2 separate regions of the Homo sapiens genome follow, and region 1 is linked to region 2. Evidence: fine-mapped expression QTL. A gene starts in region 2. The other region holds a variant in brackets. All regions are shown on one strand. Distances are from middle to middle.

Region 1 (5,381 bases), 22 kb before region 2:
TGGTGGAAGGCGAAGGGGAGCCAGTATGTCACATGGTGAAAGAGGGAGCAAGAGACAGAAAGTAAAGGTGCCAGGCTCTTAAACAGCCAGATCTTGTGTGAACTCATACATAAGAACTCACTCATTACCATGAGGTCAGCACCAAGCCATTCATGAGGGATCTGCCCTCACGACCCAAACACCTCCTACTAAGCCCACCTCCCACATTGGAGGTCACGTTTCGACATGAGATTTGGAGAGGACAAAACATCCAAATGATATCACTTGGCCAGAACATCAGTAGTGAGGCCCTAACTGCTTTTCTTTGTTTCAGTCTTGTTTGGATGAAGACATGGAGAAACCTAGACAAAAACACTCAAAGACTTATGGGCATTGAGGTTGGTGCCCTTGATTCTACAGGGCCTGAAATCTGTGCTCCAGTTTTATTCCCCTCAGTGTCCCCTCTGGCCTGGCACAAAACAGTCATCATGACCCTTTCAGATCATCCCTGATCGCTGGTTCCTACTGAGGAATGTGCTCCTCATCCAGCCTGCAATGGGGTGCCATGGGAGATGGCAGAGTGGCATGGTGGATTGTTCAAGGGCTTTACATTCAGACAGGTCTGATCTAGAGCTGGGCTCTGTTAACTGATTGGGTGACTCTGGGCATGTTAATTAACCTCTTTGAAATAGTTTTCTCGTCCACACATGAGGAGGAATAATCCCAATTCCATGAGGTTGAGATGACATATACAGTGTCTACCCTATAATTTACATCAAATATCTTGCTTTGGAAAGTTTCTTAAGGAAAAAATTCCAATTTCTTCCTGTCAAATAATGCCCGCTTCCCTAGTGGCTTCTTTCTCAAGTGTAATCACTTCCTTTTCCACTCTCCTGGGATGAGGGTGGAGTTGTGTTGATAGTTCTAGGCTCCTGGATATCTTATCTTAGCCGGCAACTTAGTTCCCTTTGTCCTCTCTGGGTTCATGTAGTAGTCTATATAAGAAGTGTTATATATAACACTTACATATAAGTGTTAGTTCTTATAAGTTCTTATATATAGTCTTATATATAAGAAGTGTTATATAGACTACTACATGAACCCAGAAAGGACAAAGGGAACTAAGTAGGGAACTAAGTGTTGGGAATTTTCTAGATGCAGGGATACCAGGGATGAACTAGCTACTTTGAAGGAGTCTAGTTCTATAGTTTAATAAAACTTTGCTTCTTCATCCGTTGCTCCAGGGTAGTGTCTGTGGGTGATCTGCTGGATGTCAGGCCCCACATTTTCCCAGATCCTGGACATATCAGAATAGCTCTTTCCAACCACCAGAAACAAGTATCCAGGGTGCTCTTTGTAAACAGTAGAGATGAGTGATATACCCTAACCTAAGCCTTCCTTTGCTCATTTATTTCTCTAGGTTCCCTTTAATAGTTCACTGCCTAAGAGCAAGTCCTCTCCCTATCTCTTCACAGAATGAACCTTCAGAATATCATTACTACATTTATATTTTTTAAAAAGTGTCCCATTATATGGTGACAATTACAGAAATGCTTTCACCTGTGGAAGAGTCATTCTAACAACAACTTCTGTGTTTCTTCTTAGTTCTGAATATTCCTTATGCCTTCTCCCTTCTGTCTGCTTCTGAAATACTTCATTCTCCACCACCCCAGTTATTCCTTGAGTCTGGGGGACTATCCATTGACAGCATTTTATCCTTGTATTCACCAACCAGTCCCACAGGGCCTCAGGATTCAGGCAATCACCCTGTGGTTAACATGGGAGGTGGGGGTAGAGGGGAGAGAGGATCAGCTTTCTGTCTCTCCTCTTCGAATAAATGAAGATCCTGAGCTGGACTTCCTCTGAAGGCCTTAATTGTTTATTTTATTACAGTTCATACTCCATTCTCACTTTCCATCTGCCTTTCCCCTGTAATTCTGTATTCCCCAGAGACTGAGCTGCAGCAGCTGGGCCAAAAAACTGCAGACGGTTCACCAGGTCTAAAGAGAGCCTTAATATTTGCCCTTAACTTTCACAGTTCCCCGCCAGGTTAGATGCTGCCTTCCCTTTTAACCCTATGCTTTTTAGCTTTTGTATTCCACACTGGTGCCTTGCATGGACTTTTGGTCTGATTCTAAATTGCAGGCCACCCCCTCAGTAGCATCTTCTCAGTTTAGGACAGGTCAGTCAACTGGAAGAGAAGAAAGGAGAAAGAATGGGAGGAAAGGCTGAGTTGTAAGGCCCAGTTGCTTTCTCCATGGGTTAATGGTCACTGGGCTGCTTAGGTAACAGGGCTCCCCATCCCACTGTGCAGGGGCCACACTGCACATCCCTCTCCCTTGCTCTCCTCTCTGTCACACACAAGCCAGTTGTTTATTGTCTCCATTTAGCTGTTTTCAAGCGGCACAAAATAAAGGCCCTATCACTTGTGTCACATTGAGTGCTTTCTGTGTTGATTTGCTGTTCTTCATTTGCCAGGCCTCTGGCCCAAAGAGCAAAGTGAATACTCAATTTGATGCACATGGATGATTTTATTTATACAGCAACTATGAACGGATTAGAAACTTGGTATCTCTGGTATGTACCATATAGAGAATAATTAACCAGGTTACTTTTTGTTCCTTTCTGAGAAGTTTGGGTATGGTTGTCTTAGGGCCACTTTGGGAGGTGTTTGATAGCACTGCTCCCTTGAATCTGGTCACCTGCAGCCTTCTATCAGAACTTCCCTCCTGGGTGTCCAGCCGTATCCTTCCAGCATTCCTTGGCTCTGACACGTGCTTGGCTTTAA[G/T]CTCTTTGTTGGCTTCCAGGGAAGGACATGGCAGCTGTGCAGAGGACCCTGATGGCTTTAGGCAGCGTTGCAGTCACCAAGGATGATGGCTGCTATCGGGGAGAGCCATCCTGGTTTCACAGGTAAAAGCCTCTTCCTTGCCCCCTGGACCACAAGGCGATTTTAACCAGAGGGAGGGTCTGAAGCCTTGGAACTCTACAGAGGCTTTATGTGCAAAGCCCCAGGACCAAGCACTGCTGTCTCCACAACTGAGTTCCCCAAAGCAATGAAAGACTGATGCTTCTGTACAGGCCAGTAACCTAACCAGAGCAGAAATGGTTGGGCCTTTTCTACCAGATACCTCCCAGCTCCACCCAGGTTCTGTTTCTCCTGAGGCTCAGCAGGACTGGATGGCCTTTCTTGAAGGTGGCTTCATGTCTGAACTTGGCTTTATTATGACTTAAGCCAGCTCTGAGCTTTCTTGCCTGCCTGGCTGCTTCCCTCCCTCCCTCCCTCCCTCCCTCCCTCCCTCCCTTCCTTCCTTCCTTCCTTCCTCCTTCCCTCCCTCCCTCCCTCCTTCCTTCCTTCTTTTTTGTTTGTGTACTTAATAAAGGGTAAATATGTCATGTTTGTTTGGAACAGTCATGGTTAATATCTATGTTGTCCCAGTATATCTATTAATAGAACTCTCTTTCACTCTCAACAGCGTCCTAGTCCGGATGACAAATTATATGGTTATCTCTCAGTAAAGGGTCTTTTTTTAAAATGATTTTTTTTTCAGGGGGTAGGGTAGGCAGGAAGCTTAAACTGGGTAATTTAGTTGTAGAAGAGTGCCCTGTGGCAAATAATTGATTATTCATTTCCAGCATCCCCTTTTCTTCTCCTTGACAGTTATTAAAAAAAAAAAAGTTACCAGCTTATGTCATTTTAAAGAACACTCGCCCTGAAAACTTCTGAGAGGTTGGCCATTTGAAACCCTGGTTTTAGTGTCTGTATTATTAGTGAACTACCGTGTTCCCATGTGGCTACACAACCACAATTATGTACTATCTGGCTCTTTACCAAAGTTTGCAGACCTCTAATCTAGAGTGCGACATTTCCCCTCATTAACTCTTAGGTCCCTTGGCTCTAAAAGGGTATATTCATCTTGGCCCTATACAGGGAAAGGGGGAATGGGATTAATGATGTGCTTTGTAAGAAGAACCAATTTTAATTTTCACAAAGGCTTGACGTAGCTGTGAGAGAAAGGGTAAGAAGAAGCAGGCTTCTTCTTAGAAGTCTGAGATGGCCTAAAGTGGTGGGGGAAGAAGGGAGAGTGGGGAGAAAGAGAAACAAGAAAAGCTGAGAGTGAATTCCCCAGAGAGGTAGCCACTGATTCTGCCCTACTCTTTGCTGGAATTCTGGAAAACACCTGGGCTTCTAAAAGATAGGGAGCTCATGCATCATGGTAGGGCCACAGCTCAGGCTAGGGCCAGAGATAGCTCAGAGTAGCGCCACGGCTCAGGGTAGGTCCACAGTGCAGGGTAGGGCCATAGCTCAGAGTAGGGCCATAGCTCATAACCACAGCTCAGGGTAGGACCTGCTGATCTATTTGGGGACCCCCAGCAGAGCCTGTCTAATTGCATATCTTGAAAAGGATTGGAAAACTGTCATAATGACATTATTCCCTCTCACTTTCCTTGTCCAGGAAAGCCCAGCAGAATCGGAGAGGCTTTTCCGAGGAGCAGCTTCGCCAGGGACAGAACGTAATAGGCCTGCAGATGGGCAGCAACAAGGGAGCCTCCCAGGCGGGCATGACAGGGTACGGGATGCCCAGGCAGATCATGTAGGACGCGGCATCCTGCCCCTGGTAGAGAGGACGAATGTTCCACACCATGGTCTCTACGAAAAAGAAATAGTTAGTCACCTTCTGACCTTCTCCTCTTTCTCAAAGCCTTCTGTCCCTGGTTTTTGCAAGTGCTGCATTTCCGCCGAGAATCCGCGTTGCCTACTGCTGCCACCTCCTGTTCATTTAGAACTATGCAAAGACTCCGCTTCCGTTTTCCTGAGCTCCTCGGGCCCCAGAGTCTCTGTTTGATTATTTATTTATTTATTTATTTATTTGCCAAAAATTCTCCTCTTCAACTTATAGAATGCACCTAATAAAGTAATTAGTCTTGTGTCTTACAGTGTAAAGTTCATTCTTTCTCTTAAGGACTCCACAGTCCGGACTGGTTTCTCTTCCATTCAAAGGCCAGAAAGATGGAATTAAGCTTAAGCTGCAGCTGAGCAATATAGGTTAGCTATGAGGACGCTCTTGCAAGATTATCGCGTTTATCTTGGCAATTGGAATAGAAAGTTTAGGAGTCATTTCGCCCACTCTGAGAGCCTAGAGACATAAGTTCAAGAACAAAGTCTTTGACCACAACAAGTTTTTGAGCATGTACTTTGTGCTTATTGTGCTAGACCTGTAGAGGACACAGCCCGGGAGACAAAGCCCGGTTTCTTGAGAAGCTCTTGTATAGGTGCCCAGGAAGTATCTGTTGAATGGATGGAAGGAAGAATGGATGGGTGGATGGTTTTATTGAATGGATGGGTGGGTAGATGACTGGATGAATGAGCAGTTTTCACTTCTCTAGCATTCATCTTCCTCTTA
Region 2 (5,381 bases):
TTTTTGTGGATTTTTTGGGTATTTTTGCAGTATGGATTCCACCCTATGTTCACCACCATCTTATGGACATTTCCACTTCCAAACTGGCCCAACCATGATAAATGATGTGGATACACCAGTTGGAAGGTTATCTACCACTTATTCTGGATAGTTAGCTGTGGGGAGGCCCAGCTACTTGGAGCAGTGGCCCAGGCTCTGCACCACTTGGCTCCAGCAGAAGTATGGCCTGTGCCTCTGATACCATGCACTCAGGGCATGGGCGGTGGTGCAGCCTCCATGCATCTGGAAGAGCCACAGTCGAGGTAGTACCTGGACCCCGTGGACTAATCTGGGAATGTGGGTATGAGCTCTGCTGGCCGATGGAATCACCAGTTACCAGGCGGTGCCAACGACACCCTGTGGTAGGTCCTTCACACTGTTGACCCTACAGAAGCTGCCCAGCTACTCAGGGGCTGCTTCTCCTTGGAGTGGATCATTTCTCAACAATCTCTTCTCCTATACAGTAAAATTGTTTTCAGGAGGAATCATGAAATAAAACTAATAATAATATTGATGAGAAAAAAAGTGAAAAATTTTAGTCAACTTTGTATATATAATTATGCTAGCAAAAATAAAATTAACAAAATACATACTGCATACAGAATATTACATATAAAAATATTACACCTTGCAATTCATACCCTGTAACTGTATTAAATTTTAAATATAAATTAACTCATTGGTCACATAGAAGGACAAATGAAATAACTGAAATTCTGTTTCTTGGTCTTTACAATCATTGTGCTATTATTGCTTGTTTTGAACCTTCCCTTTAAATGCAGCAATATGTAATCCCACAGGGATTGCTGGAGGCAAGGACTCTGCCCTAAGTATGTGCAAATGATTCCAGACCATTAGAAGCTTACTCTTGAAATGAACATGTGTCACAGTCATCTTGTATTCTGTGGAGTCCTAATTAGGGAAAAGGAGTCGGGCTGGTGGAAGCAGGGGAAAGCAAAAAGAAGAAAGCAAATGAGCTGTAAGTCTGCCTTTCTTCATGGTCCAAGACATGTAGCCCTCCTGCACAAGTAACTCAAATAACTCACAATCTTCCTGCACCCGACTAATCACCAGACCCTTGACTGATAGAAAAATGCAAGTTAGCTCATTGTGACCTTGGCATTATCAGCACTCCACGTGGCCCTCTTGAGCACAAGCACCATCCTGTAAAATCCCGAGCCAGCCTTTGTCTCCTCGCAGCCAGCTCCTCTCTTGCTGATCTGCCTGTTGCTCTCTTGCAATGTATTTTCTTACTTTCTCTAATAAATCTACCTTTCTTTACCTACAACTGTCTTGGGAAATTCCTTTACCACCTGCACCACTGGCCCCAGATAGTTGTTACCCACAACATGTTTGAGACCAACTTTACAGTTGGGAGATTTCCAAATTAATTTCTGCATGACATTCATCACTTACTAAAAAATGAATAATAGGAATTGCTCATTATACACTTAAATAAGTATTATTCAAACAGTTGTAGTGGCAGTGATTGTTTAGAACTCATGGCAATTTTTTTTTTTTTTTTTTTTTTAGAGAGGAGTATTTTGTCACTGACATTATTTAGAATTGCTGGCATGATGATAGTGAAAAAGCAGCCTTTGGTTGGTTTTATGATTGCTTTTAAATTTGGTACATTTAACACAGCCTCCTGATATTTTGCTGCCACTTTTCACACTTGGTGGTGTGAAAGGGAAAAAAGGATGGGGGGACACTAGTTAAAGGCTGTAAAGACAGATTTTCTTCAGCACTGTTGCAACGGGAGAAAGTGAATTCGATATAGAGCTGAACTCAGTTCCAAATACAGCAAAGAAAGCTGGGGATTAGTAGTCAATGAAGAGAGTGAGGGGGTCCATGGTTGGAAAATTACTAAGGGGAAACACCAAGGGGCATCCTTGCTAAACTGACCAATCAGGATTCTTGTTACAGGCAGCCAAGGACTTACATATCAAGGGTAGGGGATAAAGAACTTGATCAGATATCAAGGGTATTTCAAGGCCACTCTTGAATCAAAAAAAAAAAAAAAAAAAAAAAGAAAGAAAGAAAGAAAGAAAAGAAAAAGAAAGCAAAATCAAGGGTGATCAGATATCAAGGCGGGGGGATTCCTGCTAAACTGACCAGATGGGCCAAAGACAAGGCCCAAGGACAAGGTCTAGTTGAAAAGAGAGCTCAGAGTAACCTGACAACACTTTGGTCAAGAAGAGAGTCTTTGTCAATGGCCACCGATAAGTATACAAATTTTACTTATATTGGTGAAATATGAGTTAGTTCTAGAAATAGGTAGAGAAATAATACTGGAAAGATGAGCCATTAAAAGTAATATTATAAAGTCTAAACCATTATTAATAATTTCATCAATGTGAATAATAAATAACAAAACCCAAGAGGCGAATTTGTACATGACTTAATTCTTTTTTTTTTTTTTTTTTTTTTTTTGTTATTCTGTCTCATCTTCCCCAAGTTAGATCAAATTTCAGGTATGAAGCAACTCAACTAATCTTTCCCCACTTTCAGCAGGCAGTTTCTCACTTGCCATATGCACAGCCCGTGAATGATGCTGAAGTTTGTGTCTGGATCAGCAGAACAGTGTTTCTCCTTTAAAGCGTGACAGATCAGCTTTCTGTTGACACCCAGTGCCCACAGGGTGATGAGGTTCCAGCAATCCCTGCCTTTTTCTCCCCGTCTGCTAAGAGAAATTCTGACACTGCCCCTCAGGATTGGATTATTCTTCCCACCATGGATCTAATTCAGATTGACATTGGGAAGTATGGGAGAGATGGAAACAGGGGCTTTACAGCAGAAAGGGCCCCAGGTTTACTGAGGACTGACTGCAAGAAGTAGGGGGAGCTAAATGGAAAAAAGTCCCTTTGGATTATGAGTTCTCAGAGAGTATGGCTGGAGAGTTGAGAGCAGGACTGAAGAGTGAGTCTCCTGGAGCAGGCAAGAGATGCCACGCAAGAGAAATGAGGTGTGAGGACTTCTCAGATGTGGTGCTGAGGGTTGTAAATTAGACCTCTTCATATTCTTTAGGAGATGCAAGAAAAAAATTATAATGATTTTTAAATGTTACTGGATTGTAGGATTGTGTTTCTTATAAGAAAACCTTGCCTTGAGGCTGGCTGTACTCTGAGAGGCCTGACTCCTATGAAAGTTACATTGAGAATCCTTGAGTTTGGGGTGCAAAGCTGAGTGCTAGGTCCCTTTAACATTTACAATATAGCAATGAGGCGGCTTCAGTTTCTGAACTGAACCCGGTGGAGGTAAATTGATTCCACTCCTCTGAAAGCTAGCTTGAATGCGGTGACGGTTCTCTCAATTCTTCTCAAGAGAGCATATAAGGGGCAAAAACTGGCTTTGAGACACCCCTGGATGATCACACACAAAACGCCTAATAATGGACAAAGAAAACAGCGATGTTTCAGCCGCACCTGCTGACCTGAAAGTAAGTACAGGGTGAGAAACTTTCTCTTACTTGAATGCCATTTATTGTTGACCCTGTTAGTAAAATGAGATTGTATGACCTTATAAACATAAAGGAAACAATAATAAAATATTTTATCTTCTTATGGTAATTAATGGGTTTTACAAATGTGAGCTTATTATAAAGTGCTGTACTTGGCAATTGATTTGTAGCCGTTTTTCTAAAACTCCAGGGAAATTGTACTGATCTCTACACAAATTCCATTTTAAAATTTAATCAGTGCTAACTGAGACTGCCTATAATGTGTTTCTGCACTTAAAAGATCCAAACTTGGCTTTGTCAGTTCAACATGTACTGGCATTTCTGCGTGTTTCTTTATTTCTTTTGGGGGAGCACTTGAAAGTAGCTTGATACCATCGACAACTCATTCTACAATGGAATGTTTCTCTCTTTAGAAACCCAGTCCTCATTCCTGCAGGACACCACATTAAATGATGTCTGGTCTAGTTCAATTTCACCAGAAAGGATACAAGCAACACTTCACTCCAGGGGTTGACAAGGTGTTTGGCAAAAAGAATGAAGGGGCCATGAATAATTCAGAGTGTACGTGGCCACGTATTATCCCATTAATTGGCAAGATTAAAGACTGGAGGGCATGAATTTTGAAGAGAAGAGTGAGGGAGAGGAAAAGAGAAGGAGAGAACTCTTAAGGACAGTGCAAAAGAGAGATTATTTCTTTGGCATTGGCATTCCATATTGTTGCCTTTAAAAGAATGTGTGGTTAAAAGCTATTTCGTCTCTGGAGTTTAGTTACCCTGACTTGTATAAATCTCTCCTTAAATGAAGCTAAACTCTTGAATACATTATTAAAGAATTCACAGCATCAAATAGCAGAGGGTAGACAAGAAAATAAAAGAGGAGGAAGGGAAACAATTAAATAATGTATTTTTTACTCTTGCACATAACACTATGCACATCAATACACTTAAACCAACAATTTTCTAATCTAATGAGTGTTCTATTTCATTCTTCCATTTACTTTTAAATAATTATTTCATTTATAATTGAGAAACTGTGGCTGGCAATGGCAGCGGCTGGCAATGGCAAAACAAACATATTTAATTCCTATAAACCCACAACCCTACAACCGTATGTAAACACACATGCTTTACGAACAATTTGTGCAGTTACAAATTGCACAAATTTGTACAATCTATGCAAATTATCATATCACCTTTACTTTTCCTTCCTACCACCCAGTCATGAAGCTGTAACTAGGAAATCAATTCATTTCTGTGGGGAACTCACTTATCTTCTTATTTTCAATCCTGCATCAGCCCAGAAATAATTGATTGTGAGAGAAAAACAATATAATACAAACATGTGAAACACACACATATACTAAAAGGACTGTGGACAGGCATAGTGGCTCACACCTGGAATCCCAGCACTTTGGGAGGCCAAGGTGGGTGGATCACCTGAGGTCAAGAGTTCAAGACCAACCTGACCAACATGGTGAAACCGCATCTCTACTACAAATACAGAATTAGCCAGGTGTGGTGGTGAGTGCCTGTAATCCCAGCTACTTGGGATGCTGAGGCAGGGGAATCGCTGGAACCCATGAGGCAGAGGTTGCAGTGAGCCAAGATCACTCCATTGCACTCCAGCCTGGTCAATAAGAGCAAAACTCTGTCAAAAAAAAAAAAAGGAGGGGGGAGGGGCTGTGTACACACATGATTCTACCCACATAGAATCTTAACCTTAACCTCCTAACCTTCAAGTCCTCTAATCTACTTTACCCCATGAAATTCAGGCCTCTCCTCCACAGCATCTATTCAACAGAGTTGGAGAGTTGAGGAAAGAACCTAGAAACTGTTGCGGGAAGTCAGCGACCCTGAATGGAGGGAATTGCTGAAGCCATGGC

Direction of the effects. Positions count from the first base shown, and alleles are read on the strand shown. Sizes are in standard deviations (SD) of each study's normalised expression.
As copies of G replace T in region 1, the expression in prefrontal cortex of the gene that starts at base 3,321 in region 2 goes up (large effect, 0.94 SD a copy in CommonMind).

The links. PIP is the estimated chance that this variant, and not a neighbour inherited with it, causes the effect. A credible set is the group of variants that fine-mapping cannot tell apart.
Region 1: its variant is the best candidate, but not a certain one, in a credible set for the expression of TMPRSS7 in prefrontal cortex (CommonMind, PIP 0.51).

What each region holds. Positions count from the first base shown.
Region 1 is chr3:112,008,977-112,014,357 of GRCh38, forward strand. TAGLN3 (transgelin 3) reads left to right here. Exons shown (of 5, transcript NM_001008272.2): 4 at 2,787-2,889; 5 at 4,434-4,909. The coding sequence ends at 4,575. Among named protein-coding and RNA genes, the nearest start is that of TAGLN3, 13 kb to the left of the region's middle. The variant G/T (reference allele first, on the strand shown) is at 2,768.
Region 2 is chr3:112,031,416-112,036,796 of GRCh38, forward strand. TMPRSS7 (transmembrane serine protease 7) reads left to right here and starts at 3,321. Exons shown (of 18, transcript NM_001395507.1): 1 at 3,321-3,478. The coding sequence starts at 3,431. It also overlaps the pseudogene LOC124906250.